2 linked regions of the Homo sapiens genome follow. The protein of the gene in region 2 interacts with the protein of the main gene of each other region in a pairwise test. Each region holds a gene or a part of one and is shown on either strand. Other genes may lie near its edges.

The links. Proteins that work in one complex are often made in the same cells at the same time.
Region 1: the proteins of TBC1D2B (region 2) and TRDMT1 interact in a two-hybrid assay, tested with the Homo sapiens proteins (one large-scale study listed by BioGRID and IntAct).

Annotation. Positions count from the first base shown.
Region 1 is NC_000010.11:17,195,173-17,199,632, forward strand, and holds part of TRDMT1 (tRNA (cytosine(38)-C(5))-methyltransferase), read right to left. Parts: intron 1-4,460. UniProt on the Homo sapiens protein: Specifically methylates cytosine 38 in the anticodon loop of tRNA(Asp). Has higher activity on tRNA(Asp) modified with queuosine at position 34.
Region 2 is NC_000015.10:78,021,144-78,026,563, forward strand, and holds part of TBC1D2B (TBC1 domain family member 2B), read right to left. Parts: intron 4,355-5,420; coding exon 4,116-4,354; intron 3,397-4,115; coding exon 3,013-3,396; intron 1-3,012. UniProt on the Homo sapiens protein: GTPase-activating protein that plays a role in the early steps of endocytosis.

The DNA of each region.
Region 1 (4,460 bases), on a different chromosome or scaffold from region 2:
TTCATCACAGCACTAGTCACAATAGCAAAGACGTGCCCATCAATGGCGGACTGAATTAAGAAAATGTGGTATATATACACCATTGGAATACTACGCAGCCATAAAAAAGAACAAAATCATATCCTTTGTAGCAACATGGATGCATCTGGAGGCCATTATCCTTAGTGAATTAACACAGAAACAGAAAACCAAATACCTCATGTTCTCACTAATAAGTGGGAGTTAAACATTGGATACTCATGGACAAAAAGATGGCAACAATAGACACCGGGGACTACTAGAGAGAGAAGGGGGGCAGCAAAGGTTAAAAAACTAACTGTGGGTACTATGCTCAGTGCCTGGGTGGTGGGATCATTGATACCTCACATCTGAGCATCACACAATATACCTAAGTAACAAACTTGCACATGTACCCCTTGAATCTAGAAGCTGAAAAAAAAAAAATTTACCCCTAACCCCAAAAAATACTTTGCAGTGAAGTAAGCACACATTATTCCTCACAAGAAAAGATAAGTAATTCAATTGTCTAATGGGAAGTTAAAGTTCTCTTTTACTGAATACTCAAAATTCATCTTACGTATTTCTTTTTTGTATTTCAAGTTTATTAACTTCCACAGCTGCCAGAGAAGAAATGATAAATTTATTTTAATAGGACAACTTTTTACGTTGCTTCACTTTAAATATGACTTGCTATATAAGAGTAACTAGAAGGAAAGAGGCATGAAAAGGAAAATTTTATAATCCCAAAGACAGGTATGTATAACTGAAAAAAAAATTAAGCGGTTCATAGGCCAGCCCCTAACAACTGATGCTATAAAAATATCCTTAGGTGACATTCATATCTACATACAAATACACTTCATCGTAATGTAGTTGCCTGATTCAGTTACAAACACACCCAGTTACAAGCTGGTCTAGTAGACTCCCAAGTTGGCATGTAAGTCGTTGAGGAACAAAGACAAAAGAGATTCAGAAAATGAATAATTAATACGTGACAAATGAGATGCTTAGCATTTTAAAAGAAAATATTAAGGCTGAGTAATTCTTACTAAACACAATGAAGTATTATGGGGTAAAACTCAAAGCCAACTCCTTGGAAGAGCTTTAGAAGCTATTTGGCAGACAGGCCTTTTTGCTTTTAAGGCTGACTCCAATATTTGACTATATAGAAAACAGTCATCCAGCTAGAGCTTTCCTTTATTCACCACCTTAAACCACACTTTACTCTTCTCCTGATACTACATTTTAAAATGAGAAAAATACAGAATCTTATTTGCATATATTTGCAGGTGACCTTGCAGGCTCCACTGATATATAACCTGTGACACTACTTCTTCCACTGCTTTCTGAAAGAAGATATTTTCACTTGGAAGATTCTCATTAGCCAAAACTTTGTAGACTGTGCAGACATAAATATCAAAGTACACATAAGTAGTTTCTGTATAGGTCAAATATGTATTTAAAAATGTAATAGACATTGTTATACTGTGGCCATCTAGAATCTTTGCCTATGTTTCCTGTGTTTGAAAATTTGCCACAGTATGGATCCTTCCTTCCCCAAATAGAAGCCAGAACTCACCTTCTCAGCTTCCCTTGTCTGGCCGTGGTATCTAGTGTCTACCAACCACCTGCATCCACATGATAAGACCTCAGTTTAGAGTTAGCAGTGTGAGGAGAGACTTCAATTCAGAGGTAGCAATGGAAGAACTTAAACAAACGAGGAAACCCATCTTTCTGGCAAGGGAGGTGGTAAGAGGCATCCACCTCTCAAGGGAAAACTGCGACAGCACTTCTGGCTTCCAGAACCCAGCACTGTTGGTGTAAGCTGTGATGTCGGGATAAAGCTTCACTGTGGCCATACCCACACTATAGTGTGGGCAGTGCTCCTGTTCACCTAACCTGTTTGTTGGGTGTCCTGGAGATTCTGTGAGTTTCCAAATGTTTTTAATTTTTTTTTTCCTGATTATGTTAGCTAGAGTGGATTCTGTGGGTTGCAACTAAGAACTACATATAATACAAAAAAAGAATCTGGGCTAAATAAACCTTCATCATTTGATAAAACGATAGCAGAAGGATTATCAATTCAATAGTAACCTCAATAGTAAGCTAGAAAGAGTGTGGTACTGTGCTAGAGGCTGTACAGGAACAGAAAGGAACAGCAAAGAATGTTACATTTAAGCCATGTAAATACATGGGAAAATAGATATAAATAAAGTTAAATGAAATTTAGAAAATACAGAAGCATCTATGTAGTGACTGTAAAAATGCAACAGCATACTGGATATGCTGATAAGGATGAAAAACTTTTATTGACATATTTTTTAAATGTTCACTGGGTTTGAGGCAAATCTATCATGTTGCTAAAGAAATTAAATATACTTTTTATAACTGAAAATTCAGTAATGTGGGGAAAAATATTTGCAAATCATATATCCAATAAGACATTAAGATCCAGAATATATAAAGCCTACAACTCAATAACAAAAAGAAAATTCCAAAATGGGCAAAGGCCTTGAACAGACACTTCTCTGTATTGAAGAAAACAAATGACTAACAGGCACATGAAAAGACCCTCAACAACCCGGCACAGTGGCTCACACCTGTAATCCCAACACTTTGGGAGGCCAAGGTGGGTGGATCACCTGAGGTCAGGAGTTCGAGACCAGCCTGGCCAACATGGTGAAACCCCATCTCTACTAAAAATACAAAAAATTAGCCAGGCATGGTGGCAGGGACTTGTAATCCCAGCTGCTCGGGAGGCTGAGGCAGGAAGATCGCTTGAACCCGGGAGACGGAGGTTGCAGTGAACTGAGATCGCGCCACTGCACTCCAGCCTGGGCAAGAAGAGCGAAACTCCATCTCAAAAAAAAAAAGAAAGAAAAAGAAAAGATGCTCAACATCTTTAGTTATTAAGAAAATGCAAATCAAAACCACAATAGGATATGATTTCATATCCATCAGAATGGCTATTATTTTTAAAAAATGGAATAACAAGTGGAGAATATGGAGGTAGAGGAAACGGAGTGCTCATGCAATGGAAAATTGTGCCGCTGCTGCGGAAAACAGGCTGGTGGTTCCTCAAGAGTTACACAGTATTATCATATGATCCAGCAATTCCACTGCTAGGTCTATACCCCAAAACTTAAAAGTAAGGACTCAAACAATACTTATATACCAATATCCAAAGCAGCACTACTCACAATGGTCAGCAGGTAATTGATACAACTCAAGTGTCTATCAACAGATGAATGGATACACAAAATTGTACAGCTATACAATGGAATATTATTCAACCACAAAAAGAACTGAGATATTGATACAGGCTACAAAATAAATGAACTTTGAAGACATTATTCTAAGTGAAATAAGCCAGACACAAAAGGACAAATGTATTATTCTACTTATGTGTGGTACGCAGAGTAGACAAGTTCATAAAGACAAAGCAGAATCAAGGTTACCAGGGACTGGGGGGAAAGGGAATTTGGAGTTATTGTTTAACAGGTACAGAGCTCTGTTTGAGATGATTAAAAAGTTTTAGAAATGAACAAGGGTGATGGTTGCACAACATTGTGAATGTACTTAATGCCATTGAACTATACATTTAAAAATAGTTTAAATGATACATTTCATGTTGTGTTTTACCACAATAAAAAAATTCCATTATGAACCTTATCTAGAAATCAGTCAAAAATGAAGTTCAATATTATTCCTTTTGTGCTGCTTATTATATTATTTAATGTATAGATCCAAGGAAGTTAGTAGTTCTAACCAGAACAACGGCAACATAGCATAGTTAAAAGGTCAGGTAGGTAGACCTAGGTTAAAATACCAGTTCTACCGCTAACTAGTTTATTACATACTTAAAAAAGGACCTGAATTTAAAAGATCCCTAATAAACACTAAAGTTAGCTGCTGTTATTAGTCTTTATTATTATATTAAAAACCACCTGGAAAGGAGCAATGCATTTTATTACAGGTAAATTTTAAACTTTAGTACATCAAATAAGTGAACATGGGAAGGCAAACAAGTGTGGAAAAATATTTGCATCAATATGATTAAGAGTCTATATCCCTAATATGCAGATTTCCACCGAAAAGATGAGAGAGCAGAGAGGTACAGGGAGGCAGGAAAGTTGCTTTGGATCACAGGGTCAGCCAGGGAAGGCCAATATATGAACTAAGACATGAAATGTGAACCGAAGCTAGAGTGAAAAAGTCTGGGGTTAGGGAGCACTCTGGATGAGGCAACAGCAAAAGCAAAGGCCAGAACATCGAAGAACTTCGAGGGTTTGAGGAGTAGAGAGAAAGAAAAACAGTAAGCCTCGACAAGAAAGGCTGAGGAAAGAATTCAGGGAATCGTTTAATTAGAATTTCAGCTTTGGGTGTTGACGGTGAAGCGGGATGCTGAAGGGAGAGTGGCAGATAAAATTGAAGAGAAGACAGAAGCCAGAACTCACAAG
Region 2 (5,420 bases):
AAACAAAAAGCATTAGACCACACCAAAAAAAGTTAACAAATTCCAAATGGCAGAAATCTTTACAGGCAGCATCCACTGACAATAAAGCATGAAAACTGGTCAAGAACAGCAATAGCAAAAAAGATATATAAACATATCTTTAAAATTAAAAATATATAAAATATACTTTAAATAAATATATCTTAAATATATATATTTTTCCACTTAGACATTTAAATTTGGAATCAGAAGTAGGAATCAATATTTCTTCCTCAACCATACCCTGTCTAGAGCTGAAGGGCTATGAGGGAACACACACGAGAACACCCACTTCTGTCAGTGCGCTCCCTCTTTCTCCCTGGAGCCTTTCCAGTTCTCCCAGTGCCACTGCAGAGGAGACCTGCATGAGGTGTGAACACCTTCTGCATTGCAGAGGGACCCCCAGCACTGGCAATAACAGAGCAATGTCAGAAAGCATGAGGTCATGGACCCAGGCAGGCCTCAACTGTCTCACCTGGAATCCACCTAACAACCACTTTGCCTCTTCATCGTCTGTCGCCACATCACCTCACAATTGTGATATGTTGGGGCCACAGGCTTGTTAAGTTGTTAAAAATTGCTAAACTTGTTAAGTTGAGAAATGTTGGAGGAAAAAAACTTCATGGCTCAAAACCACTCCACCCATTATGCTGCAAAAAGAAAAGAGGAGGGAATGTCCTGTTCTGACAGCGCTGTATCCCGATCAGCTCCGTTAGCTGTCTACAGAAGGAGCTGCATAGTCGCCACAGCCACGAAGCATAACCTCCACGCACACCCTGGCTCGCTCCCCGGGAAAACCTGCTCCACACGTCTCCCCCACTGCCAAGTGTCACGCACGCCCTGGAAACCCACCACTATAGTATTGTTCTACGCACTACAGAAATAGACACACTTGCAAAATAAAAATTTCACCTGTCTGCTGGATGCAATGGCTCATGCCTGTAATCTCAGCATTCTGAGGCCAAGGCAGGCAGATCACTTGAGCTCAGGAGTTCAAGACTAGCCCAGGCAACACGGCGAAACTCTGTCTCTACTAAAAATATAAAAATGAGCTGGGTGTGGTGACATATGCCTCTAGTCCCAGCTACTCAGGAGGCTGAGGCTGGAGGATTTCTTGAGCCAGGGAGGTTAAGGCTGCAGTGAGCTGAGATTGCACTACTGCATTCCAGCCTGGGCAAAAGAGCAAGACACTGTCTCAAAAAAAATAAATACATAAAAATAAAAATTTCTGTTTTCATTAAGTAATCCCAAAATGTGTATTATTGATGGGTATATATTTAGGGTCATGTATATTCAATGTTGTGTACATTAAAAAACCCAACTTCCATTGGCAATGCTAACCAAGACCTCTTATTAAAAAAACAAACAAACAAAAACCACAAAGCCTATTTTTTTTTTCTTGCAACGGGGTCTCACTTTGTCATCCAGGCTGGAGTGTGGTGTGAGGATCTCCGCTCACTGCAGCCTTGCTCTGCTTTCCAGGGCTCAAGCAATCCTCCCACTTCAGCCTCTTGAGTAGTTGGGACCACAAGTGCAAGCCACCATGCCTGGCCATTTTTTTTTTTGTATAGAGACGGGGGTTTCACTATGTTGCCTACACTGGTCTCAAATTCCTGGGCTCAAGCAATGTGCCCACCTCAGTCACCCAAAGTGCTGCTATCACAGGCGTGAGCCACTATGCACAGCCAACTTTTTTTTTTTTAAATAGTAGATATAAGTGTAAAGTATTGAGACCAGAGGTTTTCTTGTTGTTTTGGATTTTCTCATTCATAAATCCTCTGGGCCTCACATATCCAATGGGTGTTGTCAGTGAGAAGTGGTCACTATGGGGACCATGTACATATTCCAGCCATGCTGCCATGATTCCGGTGTTTTTACTTCTGTTTTGGAATTATCTTCAGGGTCCCTAGCATGCCTATCATTCCCTCACTCAATGCATCGCCTGAAAGGTACTGCTAGGCATGAAGCAAATACTCAGTAACAACCTGGACAGCAGCAAACCTCTGCCCTCCAAGGACAAGCTCCATCCAGAGCCAAACACCCTCGGAGACACATTATTTGCAAGATGAGGGTGGCCAGGTGAGGGACGCCTTGGGGCTAGGTGAGACCAGTAGCTACAGACATGTCTGGGGTCTGCTGGGGTCAAACAGGCTATACTTGATGCCCCATGTCCTGGGGGCCACTTGTCCACCTAAAACCTCTCCCACAAAGTCTCAAGAACCGGTGGCAGCAAGAATGTTATGATCCTCCCTGTGGCCTCCCCTCTGAATCATTAGGCTTCTCTACAGGCAAGAAGAGAAATGCAGGCTGCCCCCACCTCTCACAAATGCTGTGTGTTCCTCCTACCGCATCAGCTGGTCACCACCCCAGGCATGACTAGGAGGGTCACTTCTGTTCAGGCAATAGCCTCCCAGCCTAAGGGCTAGCCCAGAGAAGGACACGGGGAGGAAAGCTGTCCTTCCTACTGAGTGTCAGGACCCTCCCATCTTGGGTGCTGGGGGCACTGACTCTGAACAGGCCCTCTTCCCAGGCCTACTTGGAAGCTGGAGTCCGCTTCCCCAGCTAACCCCATACTAGCTGTTAGGAGCAATGCTCCCAAACCAGGCATCCACTAGGTCCTGCAGCAAGCTGTGCAAATTAAGTTTGTGTGTGATTTCATGCACACAGGAGAGGCAAGAAACAGCCTCCATATGATACAAGGGATAATGAAGTACTAAGGGTGGTATATATAGAAAGAGAAGTCTTAGTTGCCTGAAAACAAGGGAGGGGAAGGATTTGAAACTGTTCAAAGCAACAGCAAGAGTTTCCTTTTCCAAGGAAGCTCCACAGAAGATTAATGATTATTTGATGGTAAGTCCTGTTACACTTGTGGGGAAAAAAAATAAGTGTGCAGCTGTTCTGCCGTCACACCAAATCAGCTCACGGAGGCCAGGCCTCTGGGGTGACATCGGTGGTCTCTCATGCCAATCACCAGAGCCCCTGCCCCACTCTTACTTTCAGCCTGTCCAGTTCCAGCTGGTCCCTGGCAACAGGCACAACCGAAGGGGAGCTGGGCGCCACGGTGGGAGGAGGCCCGTTGCCCTCGCCCTCGCTGAGCTTGATGATGACCTCGTCCTTGGCTTGGATGGTCTCCATGAGCATTCCCAGCTGCTCGTTGAGCTCGCCCACTTTGCTCTTCAGCGTCCTTACTTCCTGCTGAAGACTCTCCTTCTCCAAGCTGAACCTCTCCAGCTGGCTGGTAAGGCCCAGAATCTGATCATCCTTTTGGTGCAGAAGCTCGAGCGTGTCCTTTGGGACCCCCTCACAGAGCCGGCTGCTTGTGAAATACTTGTCATACTGGGATGACCGGACTGTCTGCTGGAGCAGTCGAACAAGCTCCTGGGAGCCAAAAGGAGAATGGAGTGAAGGGTGAAAAGAGCAAGGAGAGGAGGAAAAGCAGAAATCATGACATTACATGGAGTAATCGACAGAGTTTGAGGAAATGTAGAAACTTTACTGGAAACATTTTAATACTGAACTTCCTCTTGAAGGATCTCAAAAATAGAGGAAAAAAATATTTACTCCATAAAGACTGTCTGTAGAGAACAGTAATAGGAAACAGGAAATAATGGACATGTCCACTATAATTAGCAATGGTATCCAGTAAATGTCATGGGTATTAAAAAACCTGTGCTCTAAGAGTCACTGAACTGCTGAACAATTAAATGTAATTAGATCTGATTAGTTCAAGAAACCATTGTTGAATAGGATGCAGAAACTCTTTTTAATGACTGTTAAAGAACTCTGGGCTGAAACTGTGTTTAGGGAGATTCAACCTCAGGGGCAGGACTGGGCTGTGGTGCAGACAGCAACCTCCTCTGTCCTCCTTTGAGAGATCTTCACTCTCCTTGCAAATGCAAACACCTCTGAACCAATGATCAAGCACAGCAGCTGTGCCTAGATGACCGCCATGGCAATATGAAACCTCCAGGGGAAAAGCAACTCCTGGGAAACAAAGCTGTCCCCAGAAAGACTCAGGGAAACATAAATTGGGCTTTACTCCTCCCGTCCTTGGCCTGCTGAGGTGGGGTAAGACAGAAGCCAGAAGAAGAAGTTACCTTCTGACTGGACAGGTCTTTCTTTAACTGTTCCAGCTCTTCCTGCTGGCTCTGGACCTGCAGTTGCATTTCGGAGGCCGGCTTCCTGATGCTGACGCTGCCACTGCCTGATGTGCCTTCACTTGAAGGGTCACCACTGCTGTGACGATTTTTGTACGACCCAATTATGTCTTTCAAAGGGCGCTTTCCTTTGTAGGGGTTACGTCCAAAATCAAAGGGGAATCCTGAGCCAGTTACTCCTACATAAAAATAAAACTTGTATTTTATTATTATTATTATTATTTTTGAGACGGAGTGTCGGTCTGTCGCCCAGGCTGGAGTGCAGTGGCGCAATGTCGGCTCACTGTAAGCTCCGCCTCCCAGGTTCATGCCATTCTCCTGCCTCAGCCTCCCGAGTAGCTGGGACTACAAGCACCCGCCACCATGCCTGGCTAATTTTTTGTATTTTCAGTAGAGATGAGGTTTCACTGTGTTAGCCAGGATGGTCTTGATCTCCTGACGTTGTGATCCTTCCTCCTCGGCCTCCCGAAGTGTTGGGATTACAGGCGTGAGCCACCGTGCCCGGCCAAAACTTGTATTTTAAACAAAAACCACATCTTCCTTTTGGAAACTATAACAAAATAAAGCATCCCCACAAATCATCCTCCAGGGAGTTTGGCATTCACCACCTTAAGAACTACAGGAGATTGATGACTCTGCCCCCACTGCATTCTAGATAGTAACCAACATGCTTCAGCCAGAGATGATTGATTCCCCCCACTGGATCCTTCCTTGGAAGACTGTATCACAGGATCATTTTTCATGGAAAACTAAGACATACTAAGCATCCTATTTTTGCTAATTTGTCCTTAGCAAAAAAGCAAAAACACTCAAATGTATGTTGGTTTTTGTTGTTTTTTTTTTTTTAACATACAAACATTGCTATACTTTGAATGTGTCCCCCAAAGTTTATGTGTTAGAAATTTAATCCTCAATGTAACAGTATTGGCAAGTGAGGCCTAATAACAGGTGATTAGGTCATGAGGACTCTGCCCCTGTGAATGGATTAATGTTGTTATCACCAGGGTGGGTTAGTTATCACCAGAGCAGGTTTGCAATAAAAACAAGTTTGGTCCCCTGGCTCTCCCTCACCCTTGCCCTCTCTTGCTCTCTTTCTCTCTTGCCTTCCACCAAGGGACTATACAAAACAAAGGCTCTCCCCAGATGCCAGTGCCATGCTTTTGGACTTCTAGCCCCAGAACCATGAGCCAAATAAATTTCTGTTCATTATAAATTACTCAGCCTATGGTATTCTGTTTTAACAGT